Linked DNA regions of Homo sapiens. The protein of the gene in region 1 interacts with the protein of each later gene in a pairwise test. Each region holds a gene or a part of one and is shown in the gene's direction. Other genes may lie near its edges.

Region 1 (3,500 bases):
GGAATAGAGGATTGGTGATCCTGGCTGAGGGTGTGGGGTGGGGGGTAGTTGTGGAACAGAGCTGGAAGGTACATGGATCCCAAGGTCCTAAGGACCTTGGTGGAGGTTTAGAGGGCTAGGAGCTGTTACAGGTATACATTCACCACGTAGGAGTAGGAATGGGGTTGATTAGGCTTCAGTAGATATTGCTGCATGTAGATAATTTGATAAGTCACAGTTATAAACTGGGGGTTGTCTGTGTTTGATATGTCATTCATTGTAAATACAAATATAGTATAAAAGTAACTTTTTTTTTAAAACAGGTTTTAACGTGGAAACTGTAGAATATAAAAATCTAAAATTCACTATTTGGGATGTAGGTGGAAAACACAAATTAAGACCATTGTGGAAACATTATTACCTCAATACTCAAGGTGAGAGTTAAAAATGACATTTAATTTTTCACATTTTTAGGATGACAGTTTTCAGTGTACTGATTTAACTAGCAAAGCTGATACTTATGATTAAGTCGTTGACTGTATACTTAAGTACCTGTGGCCAGTTTCTTAACTTGTAAAAAATGAAAGTAGAAAGATTAGGATATATACTTTTAGTTTATTCCTGATATACCATTATTACAGAATAAAAACCATACGTAGCTTAGATATGTAGTCAGTTAAGAGTACTCTTGCTTCTCTTAACAGAGAGTGTATATTACCAGTATTATATGGGTGTGACTGCTGGTAGCGTAGTGGTATAGAGTTGAATTTATGTTGTATGATTCTGCTGAATTCAGTTAAACTCAACATTTATCCCATTATAATCTCACTATAGCCCCACTCCCACATTTCTTTCACAAATAGTTATTACCTGCAGAAGAACTTACAGTAGCTTGCTTTTGACCAAACCGTATTATATCATATCTATACTCTACATAGGTTTTAGTCACATTTGGGTCTTACTCTACACTTCTGCCTCATAGACCCCAACATAATGCTTACGCTCATGCCGCTTATTCTGTATGTTATTCTGCTTTCCACCAAGATGAGAGACTGAATAATTATTTTTACTTTGGGATTTTTGATATTATTATGAGCCATAATTAATAGAAAAAATGTATTTTTTTTTTGAGACAGAATCTTGCTTTGTTGCCCAGGCAGGAGTACAGTGGCATGATTGCATTTCATGGTCACCTCTGTCTCCTGGGCTCAAGCAATCTTCCCACCTTAACTTCCCAAGTAGTTAGGACTAGGTATATGCCACCACATTCAGCTAATTTTTTTTTTTTTTTTTTTTTGAGATCGAGTCTTGCTCTGTCGCCCAGGATGGAGTGCAGTGGTGCGATCTCGGCTCACTGCAAGCTCCGCCTCCCAGGTTCACGCCATTCTCCTGCCTCAGCCTCCTGAGTAGCTGGGACTACAGGTGCCCACCACCATGCCTGGCTAATTTTTTTGTATTTTTAGTAGAGACGGGGTTTCACCATGTTAGCCAGGATGGTCTCCATCTCCTGACCTCGTGATCCGCCCGTCTTGGCCTCCCAAAGTGCTGGGATTAGAGGCACGAGCCACCGCGCCCGGCCACATTCAGCTAATTTTTAATTTTTTTTTAATAGAGATAAGGTCTCACTATATTGCCCAGGGGTCTCGAACTCCTGGGCTCAAGTGATCCTCTCACCTCAGCCTCCCAAAGTGCTGGGATTATAGGTGTGAGCCACTGTGCCCTACAAAAATGAAATTTTGAATATGAGGAATGGTTGAAAGTCTGGAGATAGTTAACTTAGACATAATACTTTGGAGAAATAAAAATGGTGATGGTTTTTATCTTTTAGTCTTTTATTCAAAGACTAAATATTAGAAAAGTAGTATTCGAAGAACAAGTAGCATCCATAGGTAGAGGATCATGAGGCATATTTTGAAATTCGTTATGTAAAAAGTTATTTGATATACAGACCAATTTGCATTTGATAGAGCAAGTGTTGTAAATCCTTTCCTAGATGGGGAAACTAAACCTGAGAAGTTATGTAAACTACTTGAAATCATACTGTTAATTATTTGTAGGTGCCCCTGCCATACTAGGCACCCTCTGTGTGAAAATAATGATGGTAGACAAACTCTAACCATAACATAATAATGATATCATTAAATATTTGGTTCATTTACTGAACTTTAGCAAGTGACTATTTTTGTTTTTTTTATTTTTTTTTGGGTAGCTGTTGTGTTTGTTGTAGATAGCAGTCATAGAGACAGAATTAGTGAAGCACACAGCGAACTTGCAAAGTTGTTAACGGAAAAAGAACTCCGAGATGCTCTGCTCCTGATTTTTGCTAACAAACAGGTAATGCATTTTTATATTGGAATATTTATTTTAGTAGTTTTGTGCATGTCAAAAGGCAACTGGAAATATTTCAGAAGACAATCAGTTCAATAGATATTTATAGTTTCTTCTGTGTATTTTGAGTACAATCTATGTGAAAATGCTGTGCTGGGTACCTGGGAGTATACAAAATAGAAATAAGGTAGTTAATGCTCACCAGAAACTCCTGTGTATGCATATGAACACATAAGAGATCTGAATACGAAGAAGACTGATAAGTAACTTAAGTAACACAGTGTTACGGGAATTAGGAAAGTAGTTCTAAATGTGGCATGTTGTAAGATTGTAAAATGTAGAATTTGAGTTGAAATTATGCATGAGGCTGAGTCAGTATGTGAAAGGAAGAACATTATAGACAGAGAAGATAATAGCATGAATGTTTTTAGTTTAGGGAACATCAAGCAGATCTATATGTCAGGTCTCAGTAGAGGATGAAGAGAATTTAGAATAACAGACAAGGCCATGCTGTAAAGGTCTGACAGTGCTAGACTGAGAAATTTAGGTTTTATTCTATGAGCAAGGAGGAGTCATCAAAATGTTGGATTAGTGGGTAATAAGATCATATCAGTGTTTCAATACTATAATTCTAGGGGTAGAATGAATCAGGGCAAAGGACTGGAGACAGGGAGATGCAGTAAATTGCTTAAATAATTCAAGTGAGCATTAACAAGAGCCTGAATTAGAGGAATAGAAAGGCGGAGGCAGATGGAAAAGACTTTGAGGCAGAACTGGTGACTGAATGGGGAGGATGAAGGACTGGGAGTAGCTGAAGATTCCTAGACCTTGAGCCTTTCTAGGAGGATGAGATGCTTTTAAGTAGAGGCAGAAGGAGAGTAGAAGTGGAGCAGAGGAGATGTCATGGGAGGGGAAGAGTAGGATGAAGAATAAAGAATTTTCCCCTTAATAAAAAAGGCAAACTATTAAGAACTGGTATATTTAAGACATGCAAATAAGTCAGTGAAATACCATTTTCTGCTCATCAGATAGTTAAAGATGAAAGTGTTTTATAATCCTCAGACTTATATACAACTGTTACTATTATTATTTTGAGACTGAGTCTTGCTCTGTCACCAGGCTGGAGTGCAGTGGCACAACCTCTGCTCACTGCAACCTCCCCCTCCTAGGTTCAAGCGATTCTTCTGCCTCAG
Region 2 (3,995 bases), about 69 Mb from region 1:
GGCCGCCTCTGCTGCAGCCCTCCAAAGCTTAGACCCACAAGCAGAACTTCACTCTCCCACCATTCAGACCTGCTCCCTCCCTCCACCGGAGATCCCCACCTTAGGCCCTGGCCCACTAGCGTCTGCCAGGCCTCCAGGCGCCTCGGACCTTCAACCCCTTTGACCCTCATCCTACCTGATCCTCGGACTAAGGCAACCCCAGCCCAAAGACCTGTGCCCCCAGGGGACTCCCCCATGCCCTATGGGGCCCAGGACCCACTCAGATGTTAGCAGGATACCCTGGGCCAGAGACTGGGCAGTGGATTCCCTGCCGCTGGGGACCTCGGGAGCTGTTGGCCTTATCCCGAAAACGAAAGGGAAAGGCAGGTCCTGTCTGGCTGCCTCGGAGAAGCCTGAAAGGTGCCTGGGTTTGGGGCTCTCAAAACTTCCTGGAGCAGTGGTCCCATCTCATAAGCAGATTCTCTAAAAGCTCAAGATATTCTCCACCCTCCCCAGCCATCAGTAGGACCCTTTGCCTTCTGCCCTTTCCGGAAGGTCTCCCGTCAGGTGAGGTGGGGGGTGGCTCCGGGAGCCAAATGTCCTTCCCAGTCCCTTTTAGGATATGCCATCTCAGACCCAAGACCAGCCTGCATTCTCCCTCTTCTCACCCGTTTGGTTTCCAGTAAAAGCAAGGCTTTCCTGCCAGGGTAGCAAGAGAATCATTTCTTCCCTGGGGGCGTAAATATTTAATCAGATATTGGGAGCACCTCCCAAGTCGACCAAAATCCCAGCTGGCCCACAGACTCCTTACCATAACCCCAGCCCTCACCCCTCCCTAGGCAGGCTGGCCAGCCCAGTGGGACTTGGAATGAAGACACAGCACTCAGTAATCCTGAACTCACTAATCCTGCCCAGGTTTATGGTGGTAGGGGTGGGTGGGGGTGGAATCAGGTAGTGTCAGTGCTGGGGACTAGGGAAAGCTGAGAAGCAGGGATCTGGCAAACTAGCTCAGGAAACTCCACTCAGAACTGGAGGAAAATCCGAGTGGGCAGAGGGCATGCGGTAGGCAGATAGGTAAGGATGGGGGAGGACTAGGAGGTTCTTACCAAATTTGGGGGGAGAAAAGGAAGGGCAGGAAGATTAGAAGAATCTAGTAAGAATAGAAAAAATTTAAATATTTGTGGAGAAACATATTTGGCATATATTTAGGCGGCAGGAAAGAAATTAAATAGGAAGCAAAAAGATCAGGTATTTGAGAAAAAGAATCAACTGTTTAAGGGGAACAGTGCAGGTCAGATATTTGGAAAGGATTCAAAAGCCTAATATTTGAGGACGATTCAAAAGGATCAAAAATGGGGGATAAACAAGAAAACAGACTGAGGGAGAAGAAAGAGGTTCAGACAGTGGGGTGGACTGAACGAAAATAAACATTTGGAGCCAAAAAGAAAACATCAAATATTGCCGATAAAGATGATAACAAACTATTTGAGCGATGAAATAGATCGAAGAATTGGGGGAGTCGGAAAGTCCTATGTCTCAGGGAGGAAAAATACCTTTTGTATTTGAGGGAGAATAAAAAGACTGAAATATTTAGTAGATAGAGCGAACCTGTTTGGGGGAGAAGGCAGAGGTGAACTGGTTGAGAGAGGAAGAAAGAAAACGAATATCTGTTAAACGAGAATCCGTATTCGGAGAAGAAAACGGATATAATTTCGGGAGAGGATAAAGATCGGAAAAAGAAATTAGTATTTTCTGGGGACAGGAAAGGAACCATTGTGGAGGGAATGCAGGAGCGGAAATATCGGTCGAAGGAGAGAAACGACGTTCGGAGGGCAGCGGGCCGACGGAAGGCTCCAGGCGGTGGGGAAGGGGGTGGGGTCCCTCCCGGCCCGCAGCGGCCCTGACCCTTCTCCCGTCCCCTCCCCCAGGTCTGGTTCAAGAACCGGCGAGCCAAGTGGCGTAAGCGCGAGCGTAACCAGCAGCTGGACCTGTGCAAGGGTGGCTACGTGCCGCAGTTCAGCGGCCTAGTGCAGCCCTACGAGGACGTGTACGCCGCCGGCTACTCCTACAACAACTGGGCCGCCAAGAGCCTGGCGCCAGCGCCGCTCTCCACCAAGAGCTTCACCTTCTTCAACTCCATGAGCCCGCTGTCGTCGCAGTCCATGTTCTCAGCACCCAGCTCCATCTCCTCCATGACCATGCCGTCCAGCATGGGCCCAGGCGCCGTGCCTGGCATGCCCAACTCGGGCCTCAACAACATCAACAACCTCACCGGCTCCTCGCTCAACTCGGCCATGTCGCCGGGCGCTTGCCCGTACGGCACTCCCGCCTCGCCCTACAGCGTCTACCGGGACACGTGCAACTCGAGCCTAGCCAGCCTGCGGCTCAAGTCCAAACAGCACTCGTCGTTTGGCTACGGCGGCCTGCAGGGCCCGGCCTCGGGCCTCAACGCGTGCCAGTACAACAGCTGACCGCCCCGCCGCACCACGCGGGCCGGCGGCCGGAGCGGGGAAGGGCGCGGGCGCGGGCGCGGAGGACGCACGCGGGGCCCCGGCTCGCAAGCCCCAGCTCACCGCGCCGCGGACCTCACACCTGCGCAGCCCCCTCCTCCCACTTCCCACTCCGGGTTGGTTTTGTGTTTGCTTTTCCGGACCCCACTCTGCCCTCCAAAAAGACAAAAAAAAAAAAAAAAAAAAAAAAGCAAAAAGACGTCGGAGAAAAGTGCCGCGAAAAAATGGATGAGTTGCAATTTCTCTCGGGATGGCGCGGGTGGTGTGTGTGTTCCCACGGGCCCCGGAGGCCCACTCCGCGGAGGGCACGCGGCGCGGTAGGCGAGCGCCGAGGCCCAGCGGCCGGGGGAGGACGACCTCGTATCCCGCGTCCCCGCCGCGCTGGATCCGGACTGAGTGGCCGGGCCTGCGGACTGGATGTGCGGGGCCTGGACTTGCCTAGGATTTCCCGACCCCGTACAAACCAAGTTGCCCTCTCCGAGCTAGGCCCGGCCGAGAGCGCCTTAGCTCGAGTCGGATCCGTGTTGGGGCGGGCGTTGGGTTTGGGGGGACGGTGCCCCCAGCCCAGGATCGGGCACTCAGTGGAGCCGCACACGGCCCCGGCGCGCCTGGTAGAGCCTCGCTGGCCCCGCGCCCCGGAGCCCTATATTAAGGCCACGGAGCGACAGCGGGCAGTGCGGGCCTGGCGGGAGGTGGGGGAGGTCCATCTCAGAACACCCCAGCCTTGAGCTTAGCTGCAGGCCCAGGCCCTCTGCTCTGCTCCCGGGCTAGGAGGTGGCCCTCTGTCTGGGCGAACAGCCCCCTCCTCACCGCCCGCCGTGCAAGAGTCGAGCCGGCAGAGCAAGGGGCGCGGCCCCAGGGCCCTGCGCCCACTTTGCACACCCGCTCTCCGGCCCGCGCCCCTGTTTACAGCGTCCCTGTGTATGTTGGACTGACTGTAATAAATCTGTCTATATCGACTTGTCCATGTACGTCTATTAAAACCATAGTCCGAGCGTGCTAAGCACTGCTGAGCCCCGACTGCTTCATTGGGCTGAGGAGGGAGGCGGATAGAAAGGGAACTGTGGGTAGAAAGGGAACCGGGCCCCTTGGGTAGGAGCAGAGCGCCGAGGCAGCCCCCGCCGAGGTCTGCCTACCCCGCTTCCCCACCACCATTCTTGACCTGCTCAGCCTGGCTCCCATGAGGGCACCGTCCTGCGTTGCGAGCCTGTCCGGTGCGCACCCGCTAAGCTGTGCCTCTCGGCGTTGTCCGCGGGACGCCTTAGCGAGAACCCCCTCCCTCCGCGGCTGCGGGACTCTACGGGTTTCTTCCCAGGCCGGGTCTGCGGTGACCCTCGAGGCCCCAGGGTGCTATGGGGCCCTTGCCTGCCAGGAGCGTTCGGGCAGGGGCTGCTGAGAGCCTCTTTATGCCTGGGGTTGCCTTTTCTTCTGTGGGCCCAGCAACAGCCCCTCTTCTCTCCTCGGAGCCAGGGCCAGGCTATTCCAGGAGGACTGAGGGGGCTGGAT

The links.
Region 2: the proteins of TRIM23 (region 1) and PITX1 interact in binary tests that used the Homo sapiens proteins (3 or more experiments, as listed by UniProt).

The regions. Positions count from the first base shown.
Region 1 is NC_000005.10:65,593,334-65,596,833, reverse strand, and holds part of TRIM23 (E3 ubiquitin-protein ligase TRIM23), read left to right. Parts: intron 1-302; coding exon 303-413; intron 414-2,188; coding exon 2,189-2,313; intron 2,314-3,500.
Region 2 is NC_000005.10:135,027,234-135,031,228, reverse strand, and holds the end of PITX1 (pituitary homeobox 1), read left to right. Parts: intron 1-1,907; coding exon 1,908-2,450; 3' UTR 2,451-3,495; downstream 3,496-3,995. UniProt on the Homo sapiens protein: Sequence-specific transcription factor that binds gene promoters and activates their transcription. May play a role in the development of anterior structures, and in particular, the brain and facies and in specifying the identity or structure of hindlimb.